Linked DNA regions of Homo sapiens: all the other regions are reported to be linked to region 2. The links are microRNA targets in miRTarBase. Many come from high-throughput screens and were not tested one by one. Region 2 holds a microRNA gene; each other region holds the end of a gene's coding sequence.

Region 1 (6,035 bases), not on the chromosome of region 2:
GACTGACCCTCAGCCGGAGAATCCGCCGGGCCCAGCTTGCCCACTACAATTTTCAGTTTGGTAAGCTGAACCTCAGAGCCAATGTTCTCCCACCTGCCGTCTGCATTCTTGCTGTTAAGTTTACCAAGTCTGGTAATGCATATTTGGGTTAATTGGGGCTCATTACCTGAGCAGGTAGGAGCCAGGATTCAGGACACCTGACTCATTTGGGCCCTGTGTTCCTTCACATTGCCCTGCCCTCCCCATAACCACTTCTGACACTCAAAATAGTTTTCCTCTTTTTAACTCCACTCTAGCTGTTGGTGTCTGTTAGGTTAATTAACCAAGGGAGCATCAGAGAGAAAGGGACGGGAGGGTTAATACAGCGTTAATTACCCTTGTTTATTTTAGACCTAGATGGAATCAGCCCTAAGGGATGAGGAGAAAGGCCTTAGGGAGAAAATTCTGGCACTGCCATGCTCCCTTTTTCATTTTCCAGGGTTCAGGGCTCTATCTCAAAGGTGAGGAGCAGAAACTCCTCAGCCAGATTACCTGATTCTTGAGTTTTGCACACCCCACTCTCCCTACAAGCACCCAGAGCAAGCTGTGCTGCAATCCCAGGGACTTGTACATGGCCCCTTTCCCTCCCTTACCGCCCAGTCAGCCCCTGCATACATCCTCCTCAGCAGAGGCCCCTCACTCTGTGAATCCAGCCCTAACAGACACCAAGAGCCAGAGTGGGACTGATGAGAGGAAACTGTTCTAAGGGTCAGAGTGGTTGGGGGGAGGCGGGGCAGTGTGAAGGCCACACCACTCCTGCCACCTTCCACTTGCTCTAATACCCCCTTCAGACACGCGCGCGCACACACACACACACACACACACACACACAGTTTCTCTCTGTGGGGTTCTCATTGTTTGTCTTTCTCTGCTTGACTCTAATGTCTCTGACACACACACACACACACACACACACACACACAGTTTCTCTCTGTGGGGTTCTCAGTGTTTGTCTTTCTCTGCTTGACTCTTATGTCTCTGACCCTGGGGCTCTTGACCAGAAGCGATAAGGCCTGCGGGGACTGAAGCACTTCCTTGTCTCCTCAGGATGAGCAGGACTGGTCATTTAGTATTAGCAGACACAGCTGAATACTTCCTTTCTGTGAACCATATCTGGGCTCTGCTCCCACCCTTCCTAAAGATTTAGGTCTCTCAAGTTTCTGCAGAGCAAAAGAAACTGTTCCATGTGGGTGAATTTGCCCTGAGGTTCCCAAACTTCCTCTACCTGCAGTGGTTGGCCAGAAAGAGCAAAGTAAGAGAACAGTGAACATTCGGACTCGAGATAATCGTCGCCTTGGGGAGTGGGACTTGCCTGAGGCTGTGCAGCGACTGGTGGAGCTACAGAACACGAGGGTCCCAAATGCCGAAGAAATTTTCTGAGCCTTTGTACATAGATGAGGCAAAAACCTGCGAGTGCCATCAGCCTCCCTCACATGGGAGACCCCAACCCAGCTGACAATGTGGAGCCCCCAGAACTTCAGAACTGTGTGGAGGCACATGTCTGCTCTCCTGAAAAGAGACTTGGTTTGGGGACCCCACAAAAGGAGGGAAGCTGTAGCTGTTTGGATGTGAGGAGAATGAAACTACAAAAAAAAATAAATTGGGCCAGGCGCAGTGGCTCATGCCTGTAATCCCAGCACTCTGGGAGGCTGAGGCGGACGGATCATGAGGTCAGGAGATCAAGACCACCCTGGCTAACACGGTGAAACCCTGTCTCTACTAAAAATACAAAAAATTAGCCGGGCATGGTGGCACACGCCTGTAATCCCAGCTACTCAGGAGGCTGAGGCAGGAGAATCGCTTGAACCCGGGAGGTAGAGGTTGCAGTGAGCTGAGATTGCGCCACTGCACCCCCCTAGGCGACAGAGCGAGACTCTGTCTCTAAATAAATAAATAAATAAATAAATACAAACTGGAAGCTGCTGGTCATATGTCTTCATCTCTGACTCTGGAGAGGTGGGATAAAAGGATGTTCCACTTTGTCTCCCTCTTTTTTGTCCCAGAGAGTTAGGGAAATTGAAAAGGGACAGTCCAGACCTCACACTGGTAGGGGAGATCCCTTGGATAGGTTTCCTGCTCCCCGCTGTAAACTCCTTTGTGCCCTGTTTCCCCAACCCCAGTTCATGAGTTGGCAGATCCCCTCTCCACAGAAGGCAGCCTGTAGATGGAGAAACTGAGGCACAAACTAGGGGCTCAAACACCTCTTGCTCCTGGATTCTCTGAATCAGTTTCTCTTGAAGGTCATAAGAATGTTCTCCTCTAATCAGTCCCATTCTTCTCAATCCTCTGAGGAGGCTTCAGGGTGACTTTGGGAGGAGTGGCTTCCAGAGGAGGAGCAGCTGGGACTGAGTCATGGCAGGAAGCTGAGGAGGGCGGGAGATCACACCAGACAATTATAAAAGAAGAGCTGGTCCTGAAGCTCACAACCGTAACAGCCACCAGACAAGCTTCAGTGGCCGGCCCTTCACATCCAGACTTGCCTGAGAGGACCCACCTCTGAGTGTCCAGTGGTCAGTTGCCCCAGGATGGGGACCACAGCCAGAGCAGCCTTGGTCTTGACCTATTTGGCTGTTGCTTCTGCTGCCTCTGAGGGAGGTGAGTTGGGGGATCAGCACTTAGGAGGGGGTCTGGGCTTGCATGGCAGGGGTCTGGGTCCAGGCATCCCAGACGGCTCATCACTAGCAGAGTGATTCTCCGTTTGGCTTTCCTTTTCTGAGCAGGCCCAAAGTGGGCCTAGGCCAGTGGAGCCTTTAACCAAGGAGGCAGAGAGCAGGGGCACAGAAGGAGAGGGGTTCCTAGAAACTGCTGCCAAGAAACACAGAATCCCAGTCAAATAGACAACTGAGTGGGGGGTGGGTTCACAGAGTGAGGGTCTCCTGCTGATGAGGATGTAGGGAGGTGGCTGGTGGGAGAGGCAAGGGAGGGAAAAGGGGCCCCCAGGCTGCTCAAAACCGGATTGCTGGCCCAGCAAGCCTCGACTGACTCCCTGTCTGATTAGAGGAGTTGAGGGGTGTCCATCCACAGACCCACCCTCCATCCAGCACAAACACATTCTTTATCTGCTTTGATGCCTGAACAAAACAGGAACCCCTCAATGCTATGGGTGGAAACTAAGAAAAAAAGGAAAAGAAAAGGAAAAAAACCACCCAGGGCACTCCTGCAGGAAGCTGCTGAGGATGTCAGCAAATCTGTCCACTTCTCTGTGAAGCCCCATGCCATCATTCTTCCCAGCTCCTGGTCTTTTGTGTCTGCAGATCACCTACAAGTGACCCTTCCCTGTGCCTGTCCCAGTCCCCCAGGCCCTAAATTGAGACCTAAACTAAGGCGGAGCTGAGACTGGCTGAAGGGGAAGCACTCAACCTTCAGGAAGCCTCCTTAACCAAAGGCCTAAAGATGTTTCAAGGGCCTGGAGTAGGAGGGTGGGTGGAGGAGGTGGATTGGGTAGGCTCCAACCAGCTCAAGGTCCAGACTTTTTCCTCTGAAAGCTAGAGACGCATCCCAGCAGAGACTGGGGAGGACAACCCACAGCCCTGAGGGAAAGACTGGCAGAGGAAATGAGGGCCTCCCTCCCCAATCCCGTATGCCATACTCCCTTTAGGCCCAACCTCTGAGCCAGTAGAGGTGGAGCTATCAGACCGCCACAGGCTTTCTCAGAACCCAGCTGGTCATGTCTAGGTGTGTTGGGGCTGGGAGAGGATTAGGGGACACGGGGCAGGTGAATACAGAGGGGCATCTCGTGTCTTGCTTGTCTGTCCTACACTCTTGATCTCCACAGCCTCCCCATCCCTTGCTGAAGTCCAGGGAAGGCCCTCCCAGTGGCCCCTGACTTGCCCTTCTTCCCTCCAGGCTTCACGGCTACAGGACAGAGGCAGCTGAGGCCAGAGCACTTTCAAGAAGGTAAGAGTTTGGGGGAGCAGCATGGGATTGGGACTCCAGGAGGCACTGTGGGCTCTGATGTCTCCCCTCTTGCTTCTAGTTGGCTACGCAGCTCCCCCCTCCCCACCCCTATCCCGAAGCCTCCCCATGGATCACCCTGACTCCTCTCAGCATGGCCCTCCCTTTGAGGGACAGAGTCAAGGTAAGGTCACCATCCCATGCCCTCCTCAGTGACCCTCCAGGTTTCTAATCTGGCCTATATCCCACTTTTCAGGTGGAAAGGAGGGAAGAGGCCCTCGCCCCCACTCCCAGCCCTGGCTAGGAGAAAGGGTGGGCTGCTCACACATTCCCCCTTCTATAGTGCAGCCCCCTCCCTCTCAGGAGGCCACCCCTCTCCAACAGGAAAAGCTGCTACCTGCCCAACTCCCTGCTGAAAAGGAAGGTGAGCGCTTGCCCACCCTCCCTCACCTCTATCCCACTATGGATCCTGTTGACACCAGGCTGATCCCTGCTCCTTGGTGCCCTCACCCCTATCTTGCAGTGGGTCCCCCTCTCCCTCAGGAAGCTGTCCCCCTCCAAAAAGAGCTGCCCTCTCTCCAGCACCCCAATGAACAGAAGGAAGGTAAGCAGCTCCCTCTCTTCTTTACCCACCTTTACCTCATGGCCTTCCCCCAGAGCATGGGCTTCGGGGCAGACAAGACGGTGGGCTCTGCCACTCACCAGTTGTATAACCTTGGGTAAGTTACATACTTCTCCAAGCCTTTGTTTCTTCATCTGTAAAATTGAGGATATACCTGTTTTAGAAAGTTATGTGATTAGATGTGCAAAAATAGCATCTATTTTCACTTGCTTCTCTGCTGAGTTCTTCTTTGTGCATGTAAACTAGCCAGGCTTTCTCTGCTAGAGATGGCCATCCCAACATGGCTTTTGCTTACTCCTTCTACCCAGTAGACCCACCTCTTCCATATCAGGAGGAGATAATCATCCATTCCATGCCGAGAGAGGGTGAGTGACAGCTTTGGTCTGTCCATCCTCCTGCCTTAGTGCTCAGGACCCTGGGGAGAGGAGCAGGAAGCCCGAGCCTTGAGAAGCAGGAGGAGGTGGGGGCAGGCTGTGAGCTGACACCTTTCACACCTCGCTTCTCTTTTCCTTTCAGTTATTTTAAAAGGAAGAGCCACAAATTGTTCTTTCTCATTTCCACTATATCCTCCCAACCCTTTCTCCTCCACCCCAGATTCTTTCAATCCTCCCAGCTCATCCAGCCTTTGTGGGTTCCTTCACATGTCCCCGCTTCCCACTGTTTTCCCCATTCCAGGAACGCCAGCTCCATTTGGGGACCAGAGCCATCCAGAACCTGAGTCCTGGAATGCAGCCCAGCACTGCCAACAGGACCGGTCCCAAGGGGGCTGGGGCCACCGGCTGGATGGCTTCCCCCCTGGGCGGCCTTCTCCAGACAATCTGAACCAAATCTGCCTTCCTAACCGTCAGCATGTGGTATATGGTCCCTGGAACCTACCACAGTCCAGCTACTCCCACCTCACTCGCCAGGGTGAGACCCTCAATTTCCTGGAGATTGGATATTCCCGCTGCTGCCACTGCCGCAGCCACACAAACCGCCTAGAGTGTGCCAAACTTGTGGTAAGGTTGGGTTCTTGATGCCGGGGGGTGTCCTTTAACCCCAGACAGTATGTGTGTTTTAAGGGTTAGAGCACTAGGCCTGGGTCTGGAGGAACCTCAGGTCCCGTTCACTGGCCCTACCCTGGGCCTCCCCAATGTGCCAGGGGAGCAGAGGACAACCACTGTCTCTTCTTTATCTGCCTGCCCAGTGTCCTTTCCTGGAGCCTGGGAGGAAGGCAGGAATGTGGAAAGTGGGCTGATCCTCCCCTCTTGCTCTAGTGGGAGGAAGCAATGAGCCGATTCTGTGAGGCCGAGTTCTCGGTCAAGACCCGACCCCACTGGTGCTGCACGCGGCAGGGGGAGGCTCGGTTCTCCTGCTTCCAGGAGGAAGCTCCCCAGCCACACTACCAGCTCCGGGCCTGCCCCAGCCATCAGCCTGATATTTCCTCGGGTCTTGAGCTGCCTTTCCCTCCTGGGGTGCCCACATTGGACAATATCAAGAA
Region 2 (6,143 bases):
TTTCTTTCCCCTGCCCGCCCCCTGCTGGAGTTGTAAGAGGGCAGGCAGAAAGGGAGGTGGGGGAGGCCCAGCCAGGCTGGGGGACAGGAGAAGCAGCCCCAGTTCTAACTCTGCTTCCCCCACAGCAGAGCCTGCCAGGCCCCCGAGGGCCGGGACCTCTGGGTGATGCCTGGCACTCCCCTAAGTCACAGGTGGAGCTGGGCCTTTGGCCAGTACTCTCCCTCCTGACCACTGGGATGGGACAAGACAGTAGGGGCAACAGGTAGGAAGGGCCAGGTCTAAGGTGAGCTGGGGGTGCAGCCCTAGAGAGAGGTAGGAAGGAGGGACAGGGGTTGCTCTGGAGGAGAGAGGGTTGCTCCAGAGGCAGAGGGAAAAGACAACTGGAGTGGGAGTCAGTGAGCCAGGTTCTGTGTTCCAAAGGCCAGCATTGCCTGGACCTTGGGTCTGTCCTCACCTGCATAAGAGGCTGCAGGAGCCAAATGGGCCTTCCAGCCTTGTCCAATATTATGGAGTCCCGAGGTGTGGAGTGTATTCTGTGGGCCCAAGAAACAGCAACAGATCCCCAGAACAGATGACAGCCCTAAAGAAAGGCTGCTTTCCTGAGCATCCCTGGGGCTAGAAAGAGTGTGGATCAGGTGCTTCCTATTGGGCTGGGCCTGCAGAGGGGACAAGAGGGGCCAGTCTTACAGCCACCCAGACCATACTTTCCACACACATGCACATGCGCACACACACTTGCACACACACACACACACTTGCACACATATGCATGCACATGCCACCAGATCTCAGCCAGCACAGAAAGGCTCTCCCAGCCTTAGGTGGCTTATGCATTTTCTGAAACTAACTGTGGGAAAAGGGCTTGGGGAACCATCCCATGTGCCTGCACCAAATGCTGTGTGGGTGGGGCAGGACACAAGCCCTACACTGACACCTCCCAGAAATCAGGGAATCAGAGCTTGAGAGATTGTCCAGTAAAAGTTGGAACCCTCAACACCCCTTGACTCTGCCCAGGAGGAGCAACCTCAGAAGCCCCCCCAAACCTCCTCTCAGAGACCTGCCGAGTAGGAGGCTTCTCTCTCTACTCTCCTCCCCGCAAAAAAGAGGCCAGAAAAGAGGATGATTGGCTAACTCAGAGGTGCCCTGATGGAGGGGAGCAAACAAGGGGACTTCCAAGGAGAATTCCCTAGCCCACCTGAAAGACCCCTACCCAGAGTGGTGAGGGGCAGCTTAGGAGCACTGACGCAAGGGGGAGAGACCAGGCTGGCTTCCCTCTACGTAGTAAGTTCCTGGGGTGTGCGCCCCTGCCCCAGACAGCAGAGAAATCGCCTGACTGGGAGATGGAGAAGAGGGGCCACCTTCTCATGCCACCCCGCCGCCAATCCTCCAGGCACACTCGGGCGCTTGACCTGCTGAAGCCTGTAGCCTCAGGTCCAGTGAGGAGCTCACGGGACAGAGGGCCCTACCAGAGCCACGAAAACCGGAGGGGGGGACCTCCGCCCAAGGCAGGCGTCTCTGCGCGCCCGCTGGGGCCCTGGTCCTGCAGTTGGCTTCTCCCGACACGTTCCTTCGCTGCCGAAAGCGATTCGCCCGCGCTCTACCGAGCCCAGCCAGCTCCTACCTCGGCCCGGGCGGCGAGCGCTGTCTCCGTCCCGAGAAGAAGTTTCGCGGCTGGTCCCGGGGCGGCAGGCGCACGGGACGCTGGCGGCGGCGGCGGCTTCCGACTTGGGCTCAGACCCCGCCGCTCCAGACAAGTCCCCGCGACTGCGACAGTGTCTCGGGCAGTTCAGCTCCCCAGACGGGAGACAGACCCTCGCGACCTGGTTCAGGCCTTGCCCTGGGGGACACTGCAGTCCAAGGCGAAAGGAGACTTGCTCCCGGCCTCTGGGTCCCTAGGTCAAGGCACCTCCCCGCCCCGCCGCCCCTGAGCCCAAGTCGCCAACCCCGCGCCGCGCGCAGCGAGGGATCAGAAGGTCTCGGACGCCGCGGCAGGGCCGGCCAGGGCCCCACGAGTTAGGGAGTTGCCCCGCACCCCTAAACGCTCAGCACCCATTTACGGTTGAAAGTACGCACTTGACGCGTCCGGGCGCCTCCGCGGTGAGTCGCGCCGCCGCTCTCGGGGTCCGCGAAGGTGGCTCAGTTCGGGCGCTCCAGTCTCGACGTTCCCGGGGTAGAGAGCAACGTCCGGGGACGAACGGGACGGGTGCGCCCAGCGGCCGGGGCTGCGCTGGGCGAGGCAAGCGGCGAGAGGGGAGCGCTCCGGCGTTCAGGCAACAGCTACCCCTAGTGGGAGAGCCGCCCGGGGCCGGCGCCGCCCCGCGCCCGCTGCCCCGCGCCCCACGCCCGTGGCGCCCCGCGCCCGGGTCGGCTGGGGGCGCAGGGCCGGCGCCGCTTTCCCCAGCTCTCCGGTCTCCGGCGCCCGGCGGTAACCCGCCCGCGGGCTCTGCCCTCCGCACCTCTCAGCCCGGCCCCGGCGGCCGCTGACCCAGGAACCGCGGCGCCCCGCTGGAACGAGATGGGACGGGGCGGGCGCGGCCAGGGCGGCGCGGGCTGGGGCGGCGCGCGGCAGCCTCGGGCAGCGGCGGGGGGCGCGGAGCGCGGTGTGCGTGGCGGGGCGGTGCGGGGGGCGGCCGTGTGCGAGGCGCGAGTGTGAGCGCGCGCGGGAGGCGGGCGGGCGGGCTCCGGCAGGCGAGCGGCGCCCGCGGGCGAGCCAGGAAGGCGGCGGGAACGCAAAGTTGCCTCCTCGCTGGCCCGCGTCCTCGGTGGGGCGGGAGCCGGGGCCACCGAAGCGGCGGCCGCGGACCCGGCCTCCCGCGGCACCTGGGCAGCGGCCCCGCACGAGCGGCAGCGGCGTGGGCGGCGTTGGCGGCGGCGCGCGGGAAGCGAACCGGAGCTCCGGCGCGGCTCGGCGGCCGCCGGGGAGCTCGGCTCAGGTGCGCGGCGAGGGGGGCGCGGGCCGGAGCCAGGCGGCGGGGACCAGGGCGGCGCGCAGCGCTCGCGCCAGCTGGAGGACCTCCCCAGCGGACGCCCAGGTCCCTGGTCGGGCTCCCGGTCCCCAGCGGCAGCGGCTGCCGGAGTCCCCCGCCCCCGAGAGCTGGCTGCGGGGCCCGGGCCCGCCCCCACCGGCCCCAGGCCCGGCCGCTCCGCCCTCCGCCCGCCTGCGCCCGCCCTCAGCCCAAGATTTCTAGGGCATTGGCCGCGCTGCTGGGTGATCCCTCCGGGCTCAAGTTGCAAGGGGGCGGGCCGGGCCGGAGGTGGAGTCTCCCGCCAATTGAAGCCTCCGCTATAAATTGAACTCCCTGCACTGCTGAAGCCCAGATGCCTCGCCAGGCCACGTCGCGGTTGGTGGTCGGAGAGGGCGAGGGGTCCCAGGGGGCTTCGGGGCCTGCAGCCACCATGCTCCGCTCCCTGCTGCTTCACTCCTTGAGGCTCTGCGCCCAGACCGCCTCGTGCCTCGTGCTCTTCCCGCGCTTCCTCGGCACGGCCTTCATGCTCTGGCTTCTCGATTTCTTGTGTATCCGCAAGCATTTCCTGGGCCGCCGCCGCCGGGGGCAGCCCGAGCCCGAAGTGGAGCTCAACAGTGAAGGCGAGGAGGTGCCTCCCGATGACCCGCCCATCTGCGTGTCCGACGACAACCGCCTGTGCACCCTGGCGTCGCTCAAGGCGGTGTGGCATGGCCAGAAGTTGGATTTCTTCAAGCAGGCGCACGAGGGCGGTCCGGCGCCCAACTCCGAGGTGGTTCTGCCCGACGGCTTCCAGAGCCAGCACATCCTCGACTACGCGCAAGGGAACCGCCCGCTGGTTCTCAATTTCGGCAGCTGCACCTGACCACCGTTCATGGCGCGCATGAGCGCCTTCCAGCGCCTGGTCACTAAGTACCAGCGCGACGTCGACTTCCTCATCATCTACATCGAGGAAGCGCACCCCTCCGACGGCTGGGTCACCACGGACTCTCCCTACATCATCCCACAGCACCGGAGCCTGGAGGACCGGGTCAGCGCAGCGAGGGTACTGCAGCAAGGTGCACCCGGCTGCGCTCTGGTCCTCGACACCATGGCCAACTCCAGCAGCTCGGCCTATGGCGCCTACTTCGAGCGTCTCTATGTCATCCAGAGTGGCACTATTATGTACCAGGGCGGCCGTGGCCCCGACGGCTACCAGGTCTCTGAGCTGCGCACTTGGTTGGAACGCTATGATGAGCAACTGCACGGCGCTCGGCCCCGGAGGGTGTAAACATCCAACGGACAATTGACTGAACTTGGTGGGCTGGGCCTTCGAGCCTTCGAAGCCCACGTGCAAGCGCCTCAAACCAAGTCACGCTTGGCGAGGCCCCAGTGACACTGATGTGCTGAGCCACCATTTCAGACTGAGTCTGCACCCTCAGCCACATGAACAATCTCCCCTACCTCCCTGGGACTCTGCTTCTGTAACTGTCTCATTCACACCTGCCTGGCTCACTGGAAATCCTCTTTTGAGCGCGGGATATGGCTTGCCCTTGTCCGTGTGCCCCCAGGACTTTGCCTCTACAGCATTTTCTTACACCCCCTCCCCAGCGTGCCCTCAGCCAAGTGCTTTGGCCCGGTGCTTCCCGCAGCTGCACAGAGACCTTGGCCACGCCCGCGCGCCCTGAGCGCAGCTGGGTTCCAGGAGACTCTCAGCTCAGCTGAGCTAGTTGCCTGGCACCCACCTGTCGCGCGCGGAGAGGGGGTTCCCTGTTGCTTTTGTGTCTGTTTCCTGTCCCTGGTAGGGGAAGTGATGTCGTGGATGGGGAGGGGTGGGCAGGGTAGTTTCCCCCGCTTGTTTTGGGTGCACAGGAGCCCCACTGCTGATGACGAACTATCTCTAACTGGTCTTGACCACGAGCTAGTTCTGAATTGCAGGGGCCTCAAAGCAGCACCTAAACCTTGAGGGGGAGGGTGCTCTGGGTTTCCGTGAGGTAACCACCTTAAATGGGAGGGAAGTTGGGGTGTCTGCTTTGGGACCAGAGGAAGATAGCTTGAGAGGCATTGGCGAGGTTCGCAGCGCCCCAGGGAGAGAGAAAAAGCTGAGACTCCTGGGGAATGACGTTGGGGTGATGGAGTCCGGGGAAAGAGAGGTGGGGGGAGAGCCTGAGGTCCCCAAGTGAGGGGAGTCCTAGGCAGAGCTGCTGATTGTGGGGCTGGGAGGTGGAGGGCCCCTGATTCGAAGGCCATTTGGTGAGTGTTTTGCTGGAAATATTTCCTGTATATAAACTTCTTTCAATCTACAATAATAAAGGCTTGAGGTAAACTGCTTTCTGGTTGCCTTTGGTCCCTTTATTTTCTTTTCCCTCTGAATAGCGGCAGGAATTAAACACAAATCCCTCCCTCGCGTCCCCATAGTGACCTTGGGAAGCGGGACGGGAAGGAGCCTAGGCTGGCAGGGGCGCTGGAGGAGGATGGAGGAGGAAGAGGGTCTGCGGCGGTGCCCGGGGCGCTCCTACAACCGCACGCACCCACCTGGACGGGGAACTTAGCTGCGGGAGAAGAGCGAGGTAGCGGAGCGCCGCGGGATCCTGGAAAGCGGCGGGAGAGGCAAGGGGGCCCTCTCTTGCTCCCGCGCGCGCACACACAGACCGAACAGATGCAGCTGCCCCTGCAGCCGCCGATCCAACTTAACTGAGTATCCGGCGGTGTGTGGAGGGGGTTGGGTGAGGTGGAGGGCGAGAGGGGCTTTGGACCCGGTACAGCCTGGCTCCCGACCGCTGCAGGCACCACTGCGCACCTGACTCCTCCCTGGCCCCCTTCCGGCACCTGCAACCTTGCCTCTTGCCCACCCGCTCCAGGCAGCTGAGGTCCGCTGGAGGCGCGCCTTGGCAGAGGGGCGCCCTCACTCCAGCTGCGGCTCCTACTGCCGGGCCAGCGTGCTGCTGGGTGCGCCCCCTGCCCAGGACCCCCCTCCTCCTGTCCCTCCTCCGCTTCCCCAAGCTCCAGTCAAACCCCACCACCCGCTCCGTGCTGGGAAGCAGAGGTGGGAGGCCGCTGGGATGAAGAGAGAGAGACCAGGGAGAGGTGAATGGTGGATTCCAGGGCTGGGGCGGGGATTCGGGGCCTTAGGCACAGGTCCCCTCTTGCAGTCACGGCCAGGGGCTCGCTCTCGCGCAATCCCCGCCCTCACTGTCTCGC
Region 3 (6,036 bases), not on the chromosome of region 2:
TAGCTAACTAAGTCAATGCCTTTGGAGTCAGTAACCAAGTCTTTTGCTCCTCACAGAGGCTGACACCATGTCCTGCACATGGTAAACCCTGAAAAAATAGGTGATTCAAAACATCTATGCAGAGAGGTGGTGATTGAATTATATCAATGCCCGCTTTGTCTTCCAGGTGAAGGCTTCCATAATTACCATCACACCTTTCCCTTTGACTACTCTGCGAGTGAATTTGGCTTAAATTTTAACCCAACCACCTGGTTCATTGATTTCATGTGCTGGCTGGGGCTGGCCACTGACCGCAAACGGGCAACCAAGCCGATGATCGAGGCCCGGAAGGCCAGGACTGGAGACAGCAGTGCTTGAACTTGGAACAGCCATCCCACATGTCTGCCGTTGCAACCTCGGTTCATGGCTTTGGTTACAATAGCTCTCTTGTACATTGGATCGTGGGAGGGGGCAGAGGGTGGGGAAGGAACGAGTCAATGTGGTTTGGGAATGTTTTTGTTTATCTCAAAATAATGTTGAAATACAATTATCAATGAAAAAACTTTCGTTTTTTTTTTTGTTTGTTTTGTTTTTGAGACAGAGTCTCACTCTGTCACCCAGGCTGGAGTGCAGTGGCGCAGTCTCGGCTCACTGCAGCCTCCACCTACCTGGTTCAAGCAATTCTCCTGCCTCAGCCTCCTGAGTAGCTGAGATTACAGGAGCCTGCCACCACACCCAGCTAATTTTTTTGTATTTTTAGTAGAGACAGGGTTTCATCATGTTGGCCAGACTGGCCTCGAATTCCTGACCTCAGGCAATCCACCCGCCTCGGCCTCCCAAAGAGCTGGGATTACAGGCGTGAGCCACCGCACCCTGCCGAAAAAAACTTTTTTTTTTTTGAGACGGAGGCTCGCTCTGTCCCCCAGGCTGGAGTGCAGTGGCGAGATCTCAGCTCACTGCAAGCTCCGCCTCCCGGGTTCACGCCATTCTCCTGCCTCAGCCTCCCGAGTAGCTGGGAGCCAGCGCGCCCAGCCTAAAAAACTTTTCAAGTCAATATTACTACGATTTAACATTAGAGTGTGGACATGTGATTTAATCGCTATAGCTAAAATACGTCAAATATACGTTGTCATGTGCTTGAACATGATGCTAACCCTGACAGGATGAAGGAAAGTAATATTCTTTCAGTGTAGTTCAGGAGAGCATTTGTTTTCTTTTCTACCAATTAACCCATCATTGCTTTTAAACAACCATCTGAAGGAGCAGAGAGGCAGGGTAGAAGACAGAAGGGGGATCTATGTGGTAACTAAAGAATGTTTCTGTTTTGTTAATTATTGTGTGTGTGTGGTTTTATTGTTTGCTTAAGAGAATCAAAAACTGAAAAAAATGAGAATACAGGAAATGGCTCTTGTTTATTTTTTTGCTGTGTTTACAGCTTGTTAATGCTCTACTGTCTTTGTTTCAAGAGAGATTTGTTCACTGCCCAGCTCGTTTTGTGTCCTGAGCCCTATGGCCAGCCCACCTTATAAATCATGCCTGTTTAGATGTTTGATTTTGTTCTGTTTGCTATTGTTATCTTAAAGGTGTATAACTCTGACATGCCAGACATCAAATTAAGCTCAAATTAAGCTCTCGTTTAAATGTTTAAGCACCTAATTTATATTCTAATTGATCCCAGCCACTGATGCATGTACTTTAGCTACTTCTGCTAAATAAGCATATTAATTTTCCACATCAGACCATCAGATCTTGAGAACCAACAGTTATCTAGAATTCCGTGTCTACTAATGTTTCACCTGCATGCAGCCTTCATTAATTTTGTAGCAAAATATAAAGTGATCATTATGTAGCTTCTGGATTAAAAAAATTTGTGTGTGAAGTTGCTTTGTAAAGTGCATGTGGAATTAATGGGACAGTGTGCCCTTTGTGTTAGATGTTAGAGCAAAAGAAAGGGCTTATAGTGTTAGTATTGGAGCACTTTGAAGATAGATATTTTCAGAAAAGATGTAGGATTTAAAAGTTAAATTTTAAATTTTAGAAAAAGATATGATGGCAATTGGAAATAGTCACAATGAAGTTCTTCATCCAGTAGGTGTTTAACAGTGTTATTTTGCCACTGGTAATGTGTAAACTGTGAGTGATTTACAATAAATGATTATGAATTCATTGGTGTTCTTGTCCAGATACTTCAGTGCTGTTTAGAGAATGTTCTTTCCAGAGTGCTTGGTGCCTCATGATGATTGTATGACTCACATTGGGATTTGGGCTCTGGGCTAACAACAGCCCCTGAGACCAGCCCCTGAGACCAGGCCTGTCCTATCCTATCGGCCTTAGGCAACAGCCAGAGGAAGCCAGCAAGTTTTATTTGGAATGTAGAACTCCCAGTGGTATTGTTCCCTGATTCTCACTCACCAGCAGCCACTGGGAGTGCTTATAGATGATAATTGGGAATCTACTCCTATATGTCACCCAAAGGAGCATGAAGGACACCTTCCCCTCTCCAGGCCCCACCAATAGTTACCAGAGGTGGGGGAGATGGACTCCTGTTTTCACTCTAGTCCTGCCTCTCTCAACCTCACCTCTGCACCACCAAAGTCTCCACCCATCTTTTGCCCCAAAGCAGCTGTGGCTGTACTGTCAGGTAGAAGCTTCTTAACGTGTCTGCAGTTGAGTGGGATTCTAGCCATTGATGGGTACCAGGCTAGATCACATCATGTAAGGACCCTTTGGATGTGACCGTAGCATTTTTCAGCTGCTTCATATCCCAGTCACACATTGCTAAGACCTTGTATAGAGCGCAGGTGGAGGGTAGTCACATTCCAAGATAAGTTTGTATCAGCATGATGTGAAATGGCCCTTAATTGGGAATGTATATGTGAACCTTTGACTCCTAAAAGTACTAAACTTACTTACTTGTCCATTAGTCAAAAAGATGACATTTGGAACAGCTATTTGGAATCTTTTTACAAAAGGAGGGTATTTCCCAGCTAGACCAAATAAATCTAGAATCTCCTTCCTCTGAACCTGAGTGCCATCTTTTTTTCTGCAGCAGAGCCATGAATGACCTCGGATTGGAATGATTTGGAGGAAGAGTTGGACAAAGGTTAGATTGCACTAGTGTCTTCCCTGTTAACATTCCTTTCAGGTCTCAGCAGCATCTTAACAGAAAGTAGCTCTGGGAGTTATTTCCCAAACCTATCCAAGGTGGCCTTAGACTGATACATTGTTTGAAAGTTTCAGTTTAAGATAAAAAAATGGTCCCCCCATGTCCAGTCTTTAATCTCCTCATCCTCACAAGGCTTATTTCAGAAGCACCCACCCCTGCATCTAGGTGAAGGGAGCCCAGGGAAAGCAATTCCAATAGCATGTGTCCCACAGGCGTCATGGCAGAGTCATGGAGCCAGCCTGGGACAGTGGAGCCAACTCAAGTTCACCTCGAGTCCCCAACTCTGCTACTGGCCAGCTCTGTGGCCTTGAGAAACGTCAGCCTTTCTGGATTCAGTTTCCTTCTCTGAAAAGAGAGGACTCTTCTCTAAGGTCCCCTTCAGCCCTAACATTCGACCACAGCAACAGAGATGAGTCGGGCGTGTTCTCATATGCCTGACTTCAAATTCGAAACACCTCTCAAGTTAGCACTCATCCTTTCTGGACATAGAAGGTCAAAAATTGGGAGTGGGAGGGAGTAAGTGAATCTGAATGGGAGAACACAGACTGAGGCTGGAAGGATAGAATGTTCTTGGTTTTAAAAAATCTGCATATATTTTGTGCATTCCTAAAATGCAATAAAGCAATTAAATATAACCCATCATGAAAAACAATTTAATGAGAGAAATTATTACAGAAAGCTCTACAGCTTAATGGGGTAGTAGAAATAGCACTGGACTTGGAGTCCTGAGACCTGGATTTGAACTCTAACTCTTGATCTGACTGGCTGTGTTACCTGGGACTCAGGTTAAGGCTGAAATATGACATATGAAATTGTCATTTACTAGCCTGCGGAGCCTCTCTGAGCCTCAGTGTCCTTGTCTACACGACAGGAAGAGCAACATTTATGTGTATTAGATGAATCTGGAAGCCTCATCCCAGTGCCTGGGGCATTGCAGAGCCCTGGGAGACATCAGTTGAGGGTGAGTAGCATGCCCCACACACAAGCCAGAGACTGGGATATGGTGCAGAGAGCCATAGACCAGAAGTGAGCCAGCTTCTGGGCCTGGTTTTGCTAACTAACCAGATGGCTCTAACCTCTGGGAACTTTGGTTTCACTTTCCATAAAGGACCAACTGGATTGGGTTAACCTGTCCAGCTCTGCCGTTCTGGGGAGTCTTTGCAACCGTGTGCCTCCATCAGTTCCAGGCCTCCGCGTGGCCCTCTGCACCCCTGGCCTCCTTACTGTGCCTCGCACCTGTGTCAAAGGACAGGTCTGGCCTGCAATGTCCCTATGCTTCAGTCAGCTCATCAGGACCTGGAATAGATTTGTGGAGGGGAGAGGTTGAAACTCATGGATGAGAGTAAGCATTGGGGATTATCTGTGAGGTTCATTTGTCCATTTCACTCCTGTCCCCAATTACAAAGGGGACTGAAAACCAGTTGTGTTCTCAGTGGCTGAAAGAAATCTCCTAACCTTTATAATCCTTTCTTAAAAAATTTTCCCATTTTTGGCCAGGTGTGGTGGCTCACATCTGTAATCCCAGCACTTTGGGAGGCCGAGGCGGGCAGATCACGAGGTCAGGAGATCGAGACCATCCTGGGTAACAGTGAAACCCCATCTCTACTAAAAATACAAAAAACTAGCCGGGCATGGTGGCAGATGCCTGTAGTCCCAGCTACTCTGGAGGCTGAGGCAGGAGAATTGCTTGAACCCAGAAGGCGGAGCTTGCAGTGAGCCGGATTGCACCACTGCACTCCAGCCTGGGCAACAGAGTGAGACTCTGTCTCAAAAAAAAAAATTCCCATTTTTAGCTTAGGGTGTTAATCAAACTCCTTCCCCTTCCTCTACGTCAAGGATGTGCTATAAATGAACTGGAAACTCCTTTCCTTGTTCCCTCTGCTACTTCCCTGTGGACTGTAGAGTCCGAAGCCCCCATCCCACCCCAAGGATGTTCCTGACTTCTACATTTGCAACATCAGAAGCAGGAGGAGGGAAGGCCTGTCTCAGGGCAACAAGCCCGGCTGTCCCAGCAGCTTCTGTGGGCTCCGACACAGCCTTCTTTCCCTCTCCATTCACCCCCCGACCCCGTGGTGCCACGACTCCCCATCTGGAAGAACAGTCAGCCACATCCTGCCTGTAACTGCTTCACAGGATCCAAAAGGAAAATATCAGCTAACAGCAGCCTGGGCTAGCTGGGGCTGTGAAGACTTTGCCCTGCAAAAGAGTACCCTTCCTTACAGCTGCTGGCCTAGGTTTACTATGGAAAAAAGATGGCATTACCTTCAACCAGCCATCTGAATCCCTCACAACTAGGGATCTACTAATAGCTGCCCTCCTCCCCACTTGTTCTCAATCCTCTATGAGGCAACTCTCAATGTTACCATTGAATCTCAGAAGTTGCTTGCTTGCTTGCTTTCTCTTTCTTTCTTTCTTTCTTTCTTTCCTCTCTCTCTCTCTTTTTCTTTCTTACAAGGTCTCACTCTGTCACCCAGGCTGGAGTGCAGTGGCGCAATCTCAGCTCATTGCAACCTCCCCTCACTGCAACCTCCACCTCCTGGGTTCAAGCAATCCTCCCACCTCAGCCTCCCCAGTAGCTGGGACTACAGGTGCATGCCACGATGCCCGGATTTCTGTTGTTGTTGTTGGGGGTAGAGATGGGGCTTCACCACGTTGGCCAGGCTGGTCTCAAAACTCCTGACCTCAGGTGATCCGCCCGCCTTGGCCTCCCAAAATGTTGGGATTACAGGTGTGAACCACCATGCCCGGCCAGAAGTCTCAGAAGTTGCTTTCTTCTAGAGGTACCAACTGTGAGACAGAGCTGGCAACCCCTGTGCTGTGGGTGGACAAAATGACTGGGCCCACCACAGCAAGGGTGTGTTTGTAGTTTTATGACCAGATTTCACATAAGC
Region 4 (6,143 bases), not on the chromosome of region 2:
AGATGATTTCATTAAATTCTGGATGGTGACTCTCCTTAAGTTGGTTTACAATCATGAAGTCAGCATAAGCCACAGAATCAGAATCAGCTTACCGTATAACCTCTTGGTAGAGGGTCCAGCAATGCTAAGAAGCTGCAGAAAACACAAATGTCTTTGGCATAAAACCTATGCTCCAATCTTATGAAAAGCCACTTAAAAATAAGTAAGACAGTGTCTAAATTCTTAGATACGCAGCCACACGGTGAGAGAATTCAAATAGCCAGGTGCTTGGCCTGTAGTGCTGACAAATGGAAGCCAAGCAATTAAAGCTGAGAAAATGGGTTACAAAATCTTACAGCAGGAGACTCAGATCAGTTACAAGGAATTTACTGTTTGGGTTTAGAAATAACTGAGACATCCTTTTACCTGAGATGGATCAAGTAGAGCTCAATATAGGAAGGAGACAGGAGGAAAGAGAGAGATGTAAGTCCCCAAACCACCTTCCATCCTAGAGTTTCTGAAGACATGAGAAGTAAACTACCACTGCTAAAAAGTCAAGGTTAAAACATGAACTTTCAACTTCTCTCCTGGATATTCAGGGCTCACCTCTCCCGGCATATATTACTCACACTAATCAGGCAGCCCGCAAATAATTATGTATTTCATAGTTCTTTGAAATGTTCATTTCTTCCATCTGTGTTGCCCCAAGTAACATTATGAAATGATTCATAAGAAAGTGTGGCAGACTATCTCGTATCACCAAAACTCTTCCTGCATAGAGTGCAAAGGGATAAAAATAACTAAAATCACTTTGTTAAAGTTTCTAATCAACACTAATTTTTGACAAGGGTCTTTTTTTTCCTTTCCGTGCTATTTTTCATTACCTTTTATCTCTTTTACAAGTACAGAGTGTATAATTTCATCTAGAAATTGACTGTCTCGTTGTTTTAAGCAAAAGAAAATATTTTAAAATAAACAAATAATCCTTAAGGAGAGTGGAAAATCTGGAGGCGACACAACTAGGATCACCATAAGATTGTTTCTCGTGTTATTCCTAGCAATTTGGGAGGTAATCACAAACACTCGAATGGCTAGGGAACAGAATTTGGAAGGATGTGGCTCTTCTAGATCAACAATCAAAGCTCAATTGAATTTTTATCACAATGAGTCAATCATTCTGCCCCTCATTTCTCTCAGTTCTAACCTGAGGAGAGCCTTTGATACCATCCTTTCTTGCCAAAGGTTGAACGGAATGTTTAACTCAGTTCAACAGGAATGATGGTAGACACAGTGCGAGTGGCTGGAGGTTAGATGGGCTGTAGGAAGGATACTCCTTGGATGAAGGCAGACACACCCTACAGAGCTGTTCCGCTGAGCCAGGGGAGCACACCAAGAATAAAAAATGCTGCAGATGCCAACTCTTGGCCTGTTTGGGGATTTTTTTTTATAATAGCACACAGTAAATGATTTTTCCCATAGGTTATTTGATTAGCTATTGCTCATGATGATTCAAACTAAGAACAAGAGACTTCCCCCATCCGCAAGTGGGGTACATATGAGTTACAGGCAACAAACTCCTTGGGTCCACTAAGATTGAGCTGAAAACTTAGGTTTAAATAATACAAGGTGGAGATGAGATACATAAGTCACAGAAACAAATATATGATATACACAGACAACCAAGAACTGCTAATGGAGAGCTTTAATCATCACATGTAAAAGCAATACATTCATATATCAAAATTGGCTCCAAATTCTTTATCATCATCACCATCAACAGTCTAGAAATGAAATGACACACTAATATAAAACTTTCCTGTTTATAACTAAAAGATTTATGAAACTTTTTTTTTTACCCTGAGGCTGATATCACCAAGGTGAAAAAGAAAAGTCATTATCAGCTGGAATGTATTCAATATAGAGTTTTAAAAACCATTTATCATTATTCTAGGTTTATGTCTATTCATTCTCCCCACCCACTCTATGGGATGATAACAGGAAAAGATGGCAAATGGTTGTGTCCAGTATTATTATATACTGGTTATATAATTCTCAAATGTACTGATTATATGATTCTCGATTTAATCTACTTACCAAAACAAAGAAATAAAATTTTAACATCCATTAACTCTGTACTATCATATTTTAAAATATGTATCAAAATCAGTTCTCTCTTATAAAAGAGGGGTTGGCAGTACATTCTCAGACCAAACAACAACAACAAGCCCCAAAAAACCGGTATAGTACCTTCTTACAATGGCTACTGCAGTGCATTCTACATATTTCATAGAAACCAACTAGGTAAGTTCAGCGTTCGCAGAGATTGCCTCACAGATACTTAGCTCTGGGTTCCTAGTCACCTTGAGATAAGATCTGCAAAGTCTAAAAGAAAAACAACTCCCAAATGCTGTAACAGTTTTTCCATTCAAGTGCTGAGAGAGCTATGCATATAAAACTTGAAAAAAGATAGCCATGTTGAAGGGAGGACTATTTTAATGTGGTTTTTTGGTATGTAAATTACAAATAAATCGAAAAAAAGATTTTCAAAACCTGAATTCCTAATGTCTCTAACATTGTTTTTTGTGAACGGGTTTAGAGCCATGGTATGCTGCCTCTCACAAAGCAGCCTAGTGACTTTGTCTCCAATTATTTTCATGATAATCTCTAGATGCTTTTTAAAGCGCTTTTTCTAAATATTCTCAGCACTTCATCTAAACCAGCAGCTGGGGTGCATACCTGAGCCAGGAAATCTTTGTTGCCACTTTGTTTCAAAGTATTGTACATGCAATGTCCTGGGTACTACTTACCTCCCACTGCACAATTACACATATGCTGGTCTATAACGGAAATCTGGGATAGATGGCACTTTAAGAATTACTATCCCTAATCTGTCTGCACTCTTTGCTTTTATTATTTGTAGATCCCTTTCTAATTCAAATGATTCAAGTGAGCAATATAAGCATAGACACTGGAATTTTTCTAAGAAGTTAAATTGTGTACACTAACTCTCAGCCAAAATTGGGTGAGGATAATAGAGAGAAAATTCAGCATTAGAAGGAGTTAAGAGAAAAGCTTTCTGAAAAAGGCTTGGTATACGTGCTGTCTTTTAAAGGCAGAATCATAGAAAATCAGGCCGGGTACAGCGGCTCATGCCTGTAATCTCAGCACTTTGGAAGGCTGAGGCAGGCGGATCACCTGAGGTCAGGAGTTTGAGATCAGCCTGGCCAACATGACAAAACCCCGCCTCTACTAAAAATACAAAAATTAGCCGGGCATGGTGGTATGCACCTGTAGTCCCAGTAACTGGAGAAGCTGAGGCAAGAGAATTGCTTGAACCCGGGAGGTGGAGGTTGCAGTGAGCCGAGATCACACCACTGCACTGCAGCCTGGGCAACAGAGCAAGACTCTGCCAAACCAAAAAAAAAGAAAGAAAAAGAAAAAGGGAGGAGGGAGGGAGGGAGGGAGGGAAAGAAGGAAGGAAGGAAGGAAGGAAGGAAGGAAGGAAGGAAAGAAAGAAGGAAGGAAGAGAGAGAGAAGAGAAGAGAAAGAGAAAGAGAAAGAGGAAGAGAAAAAGGAAGAGAGAGAAAGAGGAAGAGGAGAGGAAGAGAAGAGGAAGAGGAAGACAGAAGAGAAGAGAAAGAAGAGAAGAGAAAGAGGAGAGAAGAGAAGGAGGAGAGAAGAGGAGAAAAGGAAGAAAATCAATGTGAGAGACTCTTCACCATCACATGGGCAATTCCCCATCTGGTACTTAACTCCTATGCAACATGCCCGCCAAGTTGCTGTCTCGCCTCTGCTAGAATACCTTTAGGGGAGGGAAGCTGTTCCAACACTTCTCATCTTCCTTACAATGAAACAGCAAAACAGATGGAACAGGTAAACAAATTTCCACTAAACATGATTAAGAATTATATCTAACTTTTCAAGAGAGTAGGTTGTCAACAGCTACTTCAAAGGAGAAACCAGATTTGTCTCAAGCATCCCATGCTTTCTATAATGTTTCAAAATGGAGAGATACAAATTTGAAATATGAATTTTAGAAATCATTGTTGAATAGCTGTGTGTGCTGCAGAGGGGAAGGTAAAAAAAAATCTTAGAAGTGATCATTGTAGGGACTCTTTTTAAAACAAAAGGAAAATAAATGTTTGAATAATAATTTAAAGTTTCACTTTGAAGATGCAATAAACACCTTGCACAGCAAGTCGTGGTGTAAGAATCCAAGAGCCCTGATGGATGAAGTGTAGGCTAATGACATTTTGCAGCAATTATCAATTCAGATGTGGGAGACAGAGGAGAATGACAGGATCAAGTCTGAGGCTGCAGCCTGCTATCCTAAGGCAACTGGAAAGTGGGGCATTCTACCTTGATTTTCTCCTTCTGGCTTGTTTGACAGCACTGCAAATAATTGTCTTGTTTCTGATTTCTCTCAAGGTGCTCAGACTGTTTCAGAGTTTTAAATCCCCCCTTCAGAAGACCAACAAAGCAACAGATGGATTGGTGGATGATACTACTACCTGAATTCAATTTACAAAGGATCAATTCCTCTAAAGGGACACATTTATGTCTGTATTTTTTTTCAACATTTATACGAATAAGTCTATTTAAACTAAAATCATTTATCCTGATAACACACACGTAAACTTTAAAGATCTCAATGACCACATTAGTTGAGACTCAGCTGATTCCATTTTGAATGGTATCTTTCACCCCTATGTGTTAAAACATCAATGATATCAACTTTTAACAAACAAGACTACAAGAAACAGGCAAAAACAAAACAACAAAAACCAACCTTGAAGTCAGTATGTCTTTTTATATGGAGGCCACTTTTTTTCATATCTGTTTCAAAAGTATCAGATAATTAACATTTAGTGGCTAGATGACTGAAGAGCAAACCTTCCTGCAAAAAAGAATAAAGCTTCCTTGACCACCGAGATTTGGAAGTGAAATCAATGAAAGTCTATCAAGTACTCAGGATAGATTTGGTTGGCATCAAAAACCACAAAGATCTTTGGGTTCCAGGTATCATCCACACAGCTGTCATATAAATTCACATAGCTCCCGTCTTTGGAAGGAGGTCGCATGTATTTGGAGTCTCCGTTTATGTAATCTCCAATTAGCACTCGAGCAAGAAACATAGATTTATATGTTCTAAACAGATGCCGCTGTTGCAAGCTGACACCATGAATTTGGAATGTGTTCCCATGCTTTATGTCATCTTTGCAGAAACGACTGGAATAAGCAGCATCTCTAGCAAAATAGGTTCCTTAAACAAAGAGGACCAAGAAAAGCCAAGATTACTCCGAAGAATATATTAAAAACAAGCAAAAACATTTTGTCAGGAGAATAGATGCATAGAATTGTATAATAAAAATAGATGTGGAATTTCCTCATCTGCAGATCTTTAAGAGAAGAATAGAAATCCATCTGTTATGGACAGCTGTAGTATAGACTGCCATAGGAATAGATTTGTTGGTACAGACCAGTCCTCACCACCAACACCATCCCCTGCCCCCACCAAAATATAGCTATCAGACTTCTGTTTTTAAAATAAATCTTACAAAGAAAACAATTAATAAAACAGATAAAACTGGTTTAATGATTAAAAGTGTGGTTGGACCTGAGTTTTGTTTTGTTCTGTTTTTTTGAGACAGAGTCTTGCTCTGTCTCCCAAGCTGGAGTGCAGTGGCGCGATCTCAGCTCACTGCAACCTCCGCCTCCCAGGTTCAAGCGATTCTCCTCCCTCAGCCTCCTGAGTAGCTGGGATTACAGGCGCGTGCCACCACACCCAACTAATTTTTATATTTTTTTAGTAGAGACAGGGTTTCACCATGTTGGCCAGGCTGATCTTGAACTCTTGACCTCAGGTGATCCACCTGCCTCGACCTCCCAAACTGCTGGGATTACAGGCGTGAGCCACCATGCCCGGCCCTGAGTTTTACTGCTTGGCCCTCCCTCCCGTTTCTATTTCCTTTCACCACTTCCTCACCCTGTTCCCTTGTCAACATCCAGCAAAGCTCTAGAGAGCACAGTGGAAACCGATGGCCTACAGGGATTCTTTTAAACCCCAAGAAACCGTATTTCTATGATATGGGATAACAATTCAGTAATATTTCTGGAAACAATAGAATCCCATATCCATGAAAAGATTTCTGAGAGAGTATAAT
Region 5 (6,143 bases), not on the chromosome of region 2:
TGCAGTTTTGGTTACTATAGCTCAGCAGTATAATTTGAAGTCAGGTAATGTGATTTCTCCAGTTTTGTTCTTTTTGCTTAGGATGGCTTTGGATATTCTGGGTCTTTTGTGGCTATTTTAGGGCTATTTTTTCTATTTCTGTGAATAATGTCATTGGTATTTTTATAGGGATTGCATTGAACCTGTGGTTTATTTCTGTAGTTTACACTTAAAAGTAAGATGACAGAATGTCTACACAGAATCCTCACAGATATAAAGTATAGATATTGCCCATCACATTTTCAGTTGAATGAAAATGGGATGGAAATAGGAATAGAAAATCTATTTTCTATAAAGTAGGAATAGAAAATCATAGCCTGTACTAGAGACCATGGAGAAATTAAGGGTCCAATGAAGGGAGGTAATATACACAGTTTTAACACATTTCACCAAGGCAATAAGTCATTTCTCTTATAACACACAAACAAGAGTAGGGCTAAAAATAGGAAGAAGAAAACAAAATCTCAAAAACTGGCTGTTCTGTAAAAAATGAGTAAAATATGGTTAAAAAAAAAAAGTGCTGCCCAATACCCACTCTCACCAGGTCTGTGGTCTGCATATGCAATAAGAAAATAAGATGGCCCAGGCGCAGTGGCTCATGCCTATAATCCCAGCACTTTGGGAGGCCAAGGCGGGCGGATCACAAGTTCAAGAGATCGAGACCATCCTGGCCAACATGGTGAAACCCTGTCTCTACTAAAAATACAAAAATTAGCTGGGCGTGGTGGTGTGCACCTGTAGTCCCAGCTACTCAGGAGGCTGAGGCAGGAGAATCACTTGAACCCAGGAGGCAGAGGTTGCAGTGAGCCAAGATCGCGCCACGGCACTCCGGCCTGGCGACAGAGGGAGACTCCGTCTCAAATAAAATAAAATAAAATAGATATAAAAAATATTGTGAGATAGGTATGTCACCTTTATCTGCAGATTATATAACTATAGAGCCCAAAAGAATCTATCACCTTATAAGCAGAACTCTAATAAATTTTCAGGTATTACTAGCATATTTTAAGTATTGTGAGACATCACAGTAGATGGTGTTATTATTAGATATTAGAGAGTCAAGAGGATGAAGAGTTATAAAAGAAACCTCAAGATGTGTTAATGAATTCCATTCAGTGTCAATTGTTTATTCATGTAGGATACTCTGCATTTAAACTGAATGAAATTCAAAATATAATCCTAATGGGGTTTTCATTGGAAAATAAATGAGTCAAAAATTCTCATGAAGAAACATCTTTATTTCCAAATAATAAACTATATATTAATAATATATACATACATCTTTATTTCCAAGTAATAAAAGCTATTGAAAAGTGTCAAGGATTGCTAGAATATGGAGAACAGAAATAGATGTGAGCATTTAATATACAACTGATAGTATTTTAATTCAGTAGGAGAAAGGTGAATAATAGTTACTTCTGGCATAACTGGTTTTATTCCTGGATAGAAACAAGTCTGACATCCTGCATTAGATCGTATAATCAATTCCTGATGTATTAAAATATTAAATCTCTGTGTATACACACTCACAGAATCACATATATGAAAAACTGCACTCCACTCCTTTATTCTCTTGCCCTCTGAAATCTTCCAGAAGCAAAACCTTCCTAGGAAACATAGAAAACACTGGAAATGACGCCGGGTGCGGTGGCTCATGCCTATAATGCCAGCACTTTGGGAGGCCGAGGAGGGTGGATCACCTGAGGTCAGGAGTTCGAGACCAGCCTGACCAACATGGAAAAATGCCGTCTCTACTAAAAATACAAAATTTTCCAGGCGTAGTGGCATATACCTGTAACCCCAGCTACTTGGGAGGCTGAGGCAGGAGAATCTCTTGAACCCGGGAGGCGGAGATTGCAGTAAGCCAAGATTGCGCCATTGCACTCCAGCCTGGGAAACAAGAGTGAAACTCTGTCTCAAAACAAAACAAAGCAAAAACACTGGAAATGACTTGGGAAGCTTATTTTATAGAAATAAAACAGACAAGAATACAAAGTGTTTGTTGCAGCATTACTTTTAGATGGCAAAAAAGCGCAAACAATCCATAATATCACAATTGGGAAAGTGGTTGAAAAGGCATTGGTAAATAACACTGTGGAACATACTGTAACCATCAGAAAGACTGTTAGATCATCATCTATTGAAGGAAAATCCAAAATGTACAGTTGAATGTAAAAAAGCAAATTTCAGGGAAATGTATAGTTATCCATTTTTCTGTAAAAACATAATAAAATAATTGTGTGTTAATGTTTTAGCATGAAGAAATATATGGGTAATATACACAACCTTTAAATATTATTCAGAAGAAAATTGACAGAGGGGAGGGAATGAGGAACGGAGAAGGGCAAAGATAATCATTTTTTCTTTCTTTTTTTTTTTTTTTTTTGAGACAGATTTTTTGAGACTCTGTCATGCAGGCTGGAGTGCAGTCAGGATCTCAGCTCACTGCAACCTCCGCCTCCCGGGTTCAAGCGATTCTCCTGCCTCAGCCTTCCGAGCAGCTGGGACTACAGGCACATGCCACCACGCCCAGCTAATTTTTGTATTTTTAGTAGAGATGGGGTTTCACTATATTGGCCAGGCTGCCCCCTGCCTTGGCCTCCCAAAGCACTGGGATTACAGGCGTAAGCCACTGTGCCCAGCCCCTTTTCTTTCTCTTTAATGGTATTGTTTCATTAATTTGGGTGCAAATGCACTATCTCTATAATTTTAGATGAAGAACTTTATAAAAGACATAAGCACACAAGAAAAGAAAGTAAACAAAATCTCATTTGGCAGTTTTCATTTTGATAACGCAAAACATTACAACAGTCCATTTTTAGTAATTCTCTCATTTGCAGGTATTTTTGCTCACTCTACTTTTCTCAAATTTATTATGAAATATTTTACTTCCTTATGCCAGTAAAGTAAAGTAACACAATGTTCAGAGAGACCCGTCTACACAGGATCTAAGAAAAAAGGAAGTGGGGCATAAAATAACAGTTCTACAGACATAAACTTCATCCTTCCACATATGCGATCTGTCCAGCGTGGGGAGCTGCTTGCTGAGCATGTTTTGAGCACAGGGAAGGCCCATTTCAAAACACTAACTTAACCCCAAACAAAGCTACACTGTGGACTTTTTTTTTTTTTTTTTAATAGTCTCATTCTGTCGCTCAGGCTGAAGTGCCATGGCGTGATCTTGGCTCACTGCAACCTCCACCTCCTGCATTCAAGTGATTCTCCTGCCTCAGCCTCCCCAGTAGCTGGGATTACAGGCATGTGCCACCATGCCTGGCTAAGTTTTGTATTTTTGAGTAAAAATGGGGTTTCAACATGTTGGCCAGGCTGGTCTCAAGCTCCTGGCCTCAAATGATCCTTCCATCTCAGCCTCCCAAAGTGCTGGGATTACAGGCGTGAGCCAAGATGTGTACTTCTATATAACTGAAATAGTTCCTTGAACATTTGATAAAGTTTTCCTTAGAAAGAAACTGGATTTGGTGCTTCATTAGTAATAGTTAACTGATCACATGCTAATTTTTCCCTGTTCTCTGTGTTTATGAGAGTCTTTGAAGAGTCCTAATTTTCTTGGAGTCAATATTGATGTATATTTTCCTTAAAAACCATTTTGTTTAAATTTTCAAACATATTAGAAAAAAGCATAATATTCAACAGAACCTTTTAAATCTGTAACTATGTTTCTATCTCTGTCCATTTTTTAAATATGATGCTGTTTCTCTTTTCATACTTTTTTTCCTCATTAGTGCACCAATATTTTGCTTATGTTCTCTTTTCTTTTTTACTGGGTATATAATGCGACAAAAAGAGTATTAGTCGGAATAAAGTCCTTCACACACATTATTCACAGTACTTTCCCCCCCAACACCTAGGATTATTTCATGTTCAATAGTAAGTACATGATGATGGGAAATTTTCTTAACTTGTTACCTTCAAAGGGTCTTTCTTCAGTCAAACACCCTGCCTAATGGTGACTAAGTTCTGCAGAAGTTAAAAAGCCTTTCTACAAATAATAATACTGATGATGATGAATATAATAACGATGACTAACATTCAGTGAGTATGTATTTATCATGTCAGGCACAATTCTAAGCACTTTATCGATCTTAATTCATTTAATCCTCACAAAGCATTATGAGGTAGGTATTATAATTATCCCCCATTTTATAATTTTTACTGAGACACGCATGTATATATGAACAGAAAAATGATCAGCAATAAATAATGAACTGATAAAGACTATCCTTTGGGATATGGTCAAAGGGTACATTTGCCTTTTTGTAATGTTTGCATCTTTTATAAGGAAAATATATTCACACATTACTTCTGCAATTAAAAGATATGATACAAAGATGTGCTTAGGGAGAATGTCCAGCAGGGACTTGTATTTTGGCATGTATTATGGCAAAATATCTAGAGGAGACTACGATATCCACCAATAGGATTTCATAAGTGATATTACAGTAACACAACAAAACACCATGAAGATAATGAAGAATCTCTATTGAGTAAAATGTCGTTCATGAACATTTTTACAATAAGAAAGCCTTAATGTTATAAAGAACAAAAAGAATAAGCCATCTTCAAAAATAAAGAGGTCACTTCTCCCAGGTACTAAAGGTATTTTTAAAATAGTATACAAATCAGGATGTAAACAGATGAAATTTATAGCCATATAAATTTAATATGGATTAAAATACTAAGAATGTAACAATTAGAGAAATTAGGGGAAAAAATGACAATCACAGGACTACATTTCTACAAAAATTCTCTGACGTTAAGAAGGTTAGAAAGGTGTTAAAAGTGCTGTCATTTTCAGTATGACAGACTGAATTATCTATCATATTGCTAGACTGAATTATCTGATGTCAAGAGAAGTAAGCGTTTAGTTAAGGGCTTCCAAAGTATATTCTATTCATAGAGTATTTCTCCAACATTATTTTTCCCAGGCTGAATAAGCTGTAGTCCACAAATAAAATGTTTCTACATTATTCTATCTAGAGGAATTATTAACAAGATAAATTCTGTTTTGAGCCATAATTAAAAGCCTCCCTACACATTTCATATATTCTGTTTCATCACCAGTACAAATTTTGATGCTGAATAAGTTGTGGGTCATAATTAAAGTTCTTTCCACATTCCCTATATTCATAGGGTTTCTCACTAGTATGAATTCTATGATGACTAATAAGCTGTGAACTCTGAGAATAAGCCTTCCCACATATCTTACATTCATAGGGTTTCTCCCCAGTATGAATTCTCTGATGTCTAGTAAGGTCTGAGCCAGAACGAAAAGCCTTTTCACATTCCTTACATTCGTAAGGTTTCTCACCTGTATGGATTCTTTGATGTTTAATAAGTTGTGAGCTCTGACTAAAGGCATTGCCACATTCCTTACATTCATAGGGTTTTTCCCCAGTATGAATTCTCTGATGTTGAGTAAAGTTTGAGCCACTACTAAAGGCCTTCCCGCATTCTTTGCATTCATAAGGCTTCTCACCTGTGTGAATTCTCTGATGTCGAGTGAAGTTTGAACCACTACTAAAGGCTTTCCCACATTCCTTACATTCATAGGGTTTCTCACCAGTGTGAATTCTGTGATGTCGAGTAAGGTCTGAGCCACAAATAAAGGTTTTTCCACATTCCTTACATTCAAAGGGTTTCTTGCCAGTATGAATTTTCTGATGATGAGTGAGTCTTGAGGGATGTCTAAAGGACTTTCCACATTCCTTACATTCATAAGGCTTCTCAATGGTATGAATTATCTCATGTGTAGCAAACTGTGAGCCATGTCTAAAGGTTTTCCTATATTCTTTAGATGCACAGAATTTCTTTTTACTGTTAATGATTTGCTGTAATGTGAAGGATGGATGGTGACTCAAAGTGGGCAGATCTTCATGAGTGAATACCAATTGATTGAAATGTCCCCCCTGAGAGCCGAGTTCTTTCTTAAACTGCCGATTACATTCCCAATCATCTCTGAAACTGGAGCACTGAAAATCACGTCTTGTGAGTTTTTCCATTATTTCCCACTGGGTTGATTCTATTTCATAAATTTCTTTCTTCAGAAATAATTTCTTGGTCTCACATCTTGATTCCAGGACTGA

Evidence for each region. The annotated mature microRNA hsa-miR-1247-3p reads CCCCGGGAACGUCGAGACUGGAGC and lies in region 2 at 2,148-2,171, opposite strand. An mRNA with a match to its seed (bases 2 to 7 or 8) in the 3' UTR can be bound and repressed. Matches are read on the target gene's strand: a 7mer-m8 pairs with bases 2 to 8, a 7mer-A1 pairs with bases 2 to 7 and ends in A, and an 8mer does both.
Region 1: the mRNA of TARS2 is a reported target of hsa-miR-1247-3p. Seed matches in the 3' UTR shown: 7mer-A1 at 1,846-1,852.
Region 3: miRTarBase lists SCD5 as a target of hsa-miR-1247-3p. Seed matches in the 3' UTR shown: 7mer-m8 at 950-956.
Region 4: miRTarBase lists PARP11 as a target of hsa-miR-1247-3p. Seed matches in the 3' UTR shown: 7mer-m8 at 3,315-3,321.
Region 5: the mRNA of ZNF566 is a reported target of hsa-miR-1247-3p. Seed matches in the 3' UTR shown: 7mer-A1 at 2,499-2,505 and 7mer-m8 at 1,879-1,885.

Annotation. Positions count from the first base shown.
Region 1 is chr1:150,505,646-150,511,680 of GRCh38, forward strand. TARS2 (threonyl-tRNA synthetase 2, mitochondrial) reads left to right here. Exons shown (of 18, transcript NM_025150.5): 17 at 1-60; 18 at 1,271-1,957. The coding sequence ends at 1,419. ECM1 (extracellular matrix protein 1) reads left to right here and starts at 2,464. Exons shown (of 10, transcript NM_004425.4): 1 at 2,464-2,634; 2 at 3,886-3,936; 3 at 4,016-4,117; 4 at 4,277-4,357; 5 at 4,457-4,537; 6 at 5,231-5,553; 7 at 5,812-6,035. The coding sequence starts at 2,565. RefSeq lists an enhancer at 4,849-5,719.
Region 2 is chr14:101,558,179-101,564,321 of GRCh38, forward strand. It overlaps MIR1247 (microRNA 1247), which reads right to left and starts at 2,244; the gene lies at 2,109-2,244. DIO3 (iodothyronine deiodinase 3) reads left to right here and starts at 3,317. Exons shown (of 1, transcript NM_001362.4): 1 at 3,317-5,274. The coding sequence starts at 3,319. The coding sequence ends at 4,233. It overlaps DIO3OS (DIO3 opposite strand upstream RNA), which reads right to left and starts at 2,244. Exons shown (of 2, transcript NR_152588.1): 1 at 2,074-2,244.
Region 3 is chr4:82,625,648-82,631,683 of GRCh38, reverse strand. It overlaps SCD5 (stearoyl-CoA desaturase 5), which reads left to right. Exons shown (of 5, transcript NM_001037582.3): 5 at 167-2,145. The coding sequence ends at 357. Among named protein-coding and RNA genes, the nearest start is that of LINC00575, 7.2 kb to the right of the region's middle.
Region 4 is chr12:3,807,198-3,813,340 of GRCh38, forward strand. It overlaps PARP11 (poly(ADP-ribose) polymerase family member 11), which reads right to left. Exons shown (of 8, transcript NM_020367.6): 8 at 1,664-5,242. The coding sequence ends at 4,926. Among named protein-coding and RNA genes, the nearest start is that of CRACR2A, 57 kb to the left of the region's middle.
Region 5 is chr19:36,443,863-36,450,005 of GRCh38, forward strand. It overlaps ZNF566 (zinc finger protein 566), which reads right to left. Exons shown (of 5, transcript NM_001145344.1): 5 at 1,257-6,139. The coding sequence ends at 5,115. Among named protein-coding and RNA genes, the nearest start is that of ZFP82, 28 kb to the left of the region's middle. RefSeq lists an enhancer at 5,189-6,143.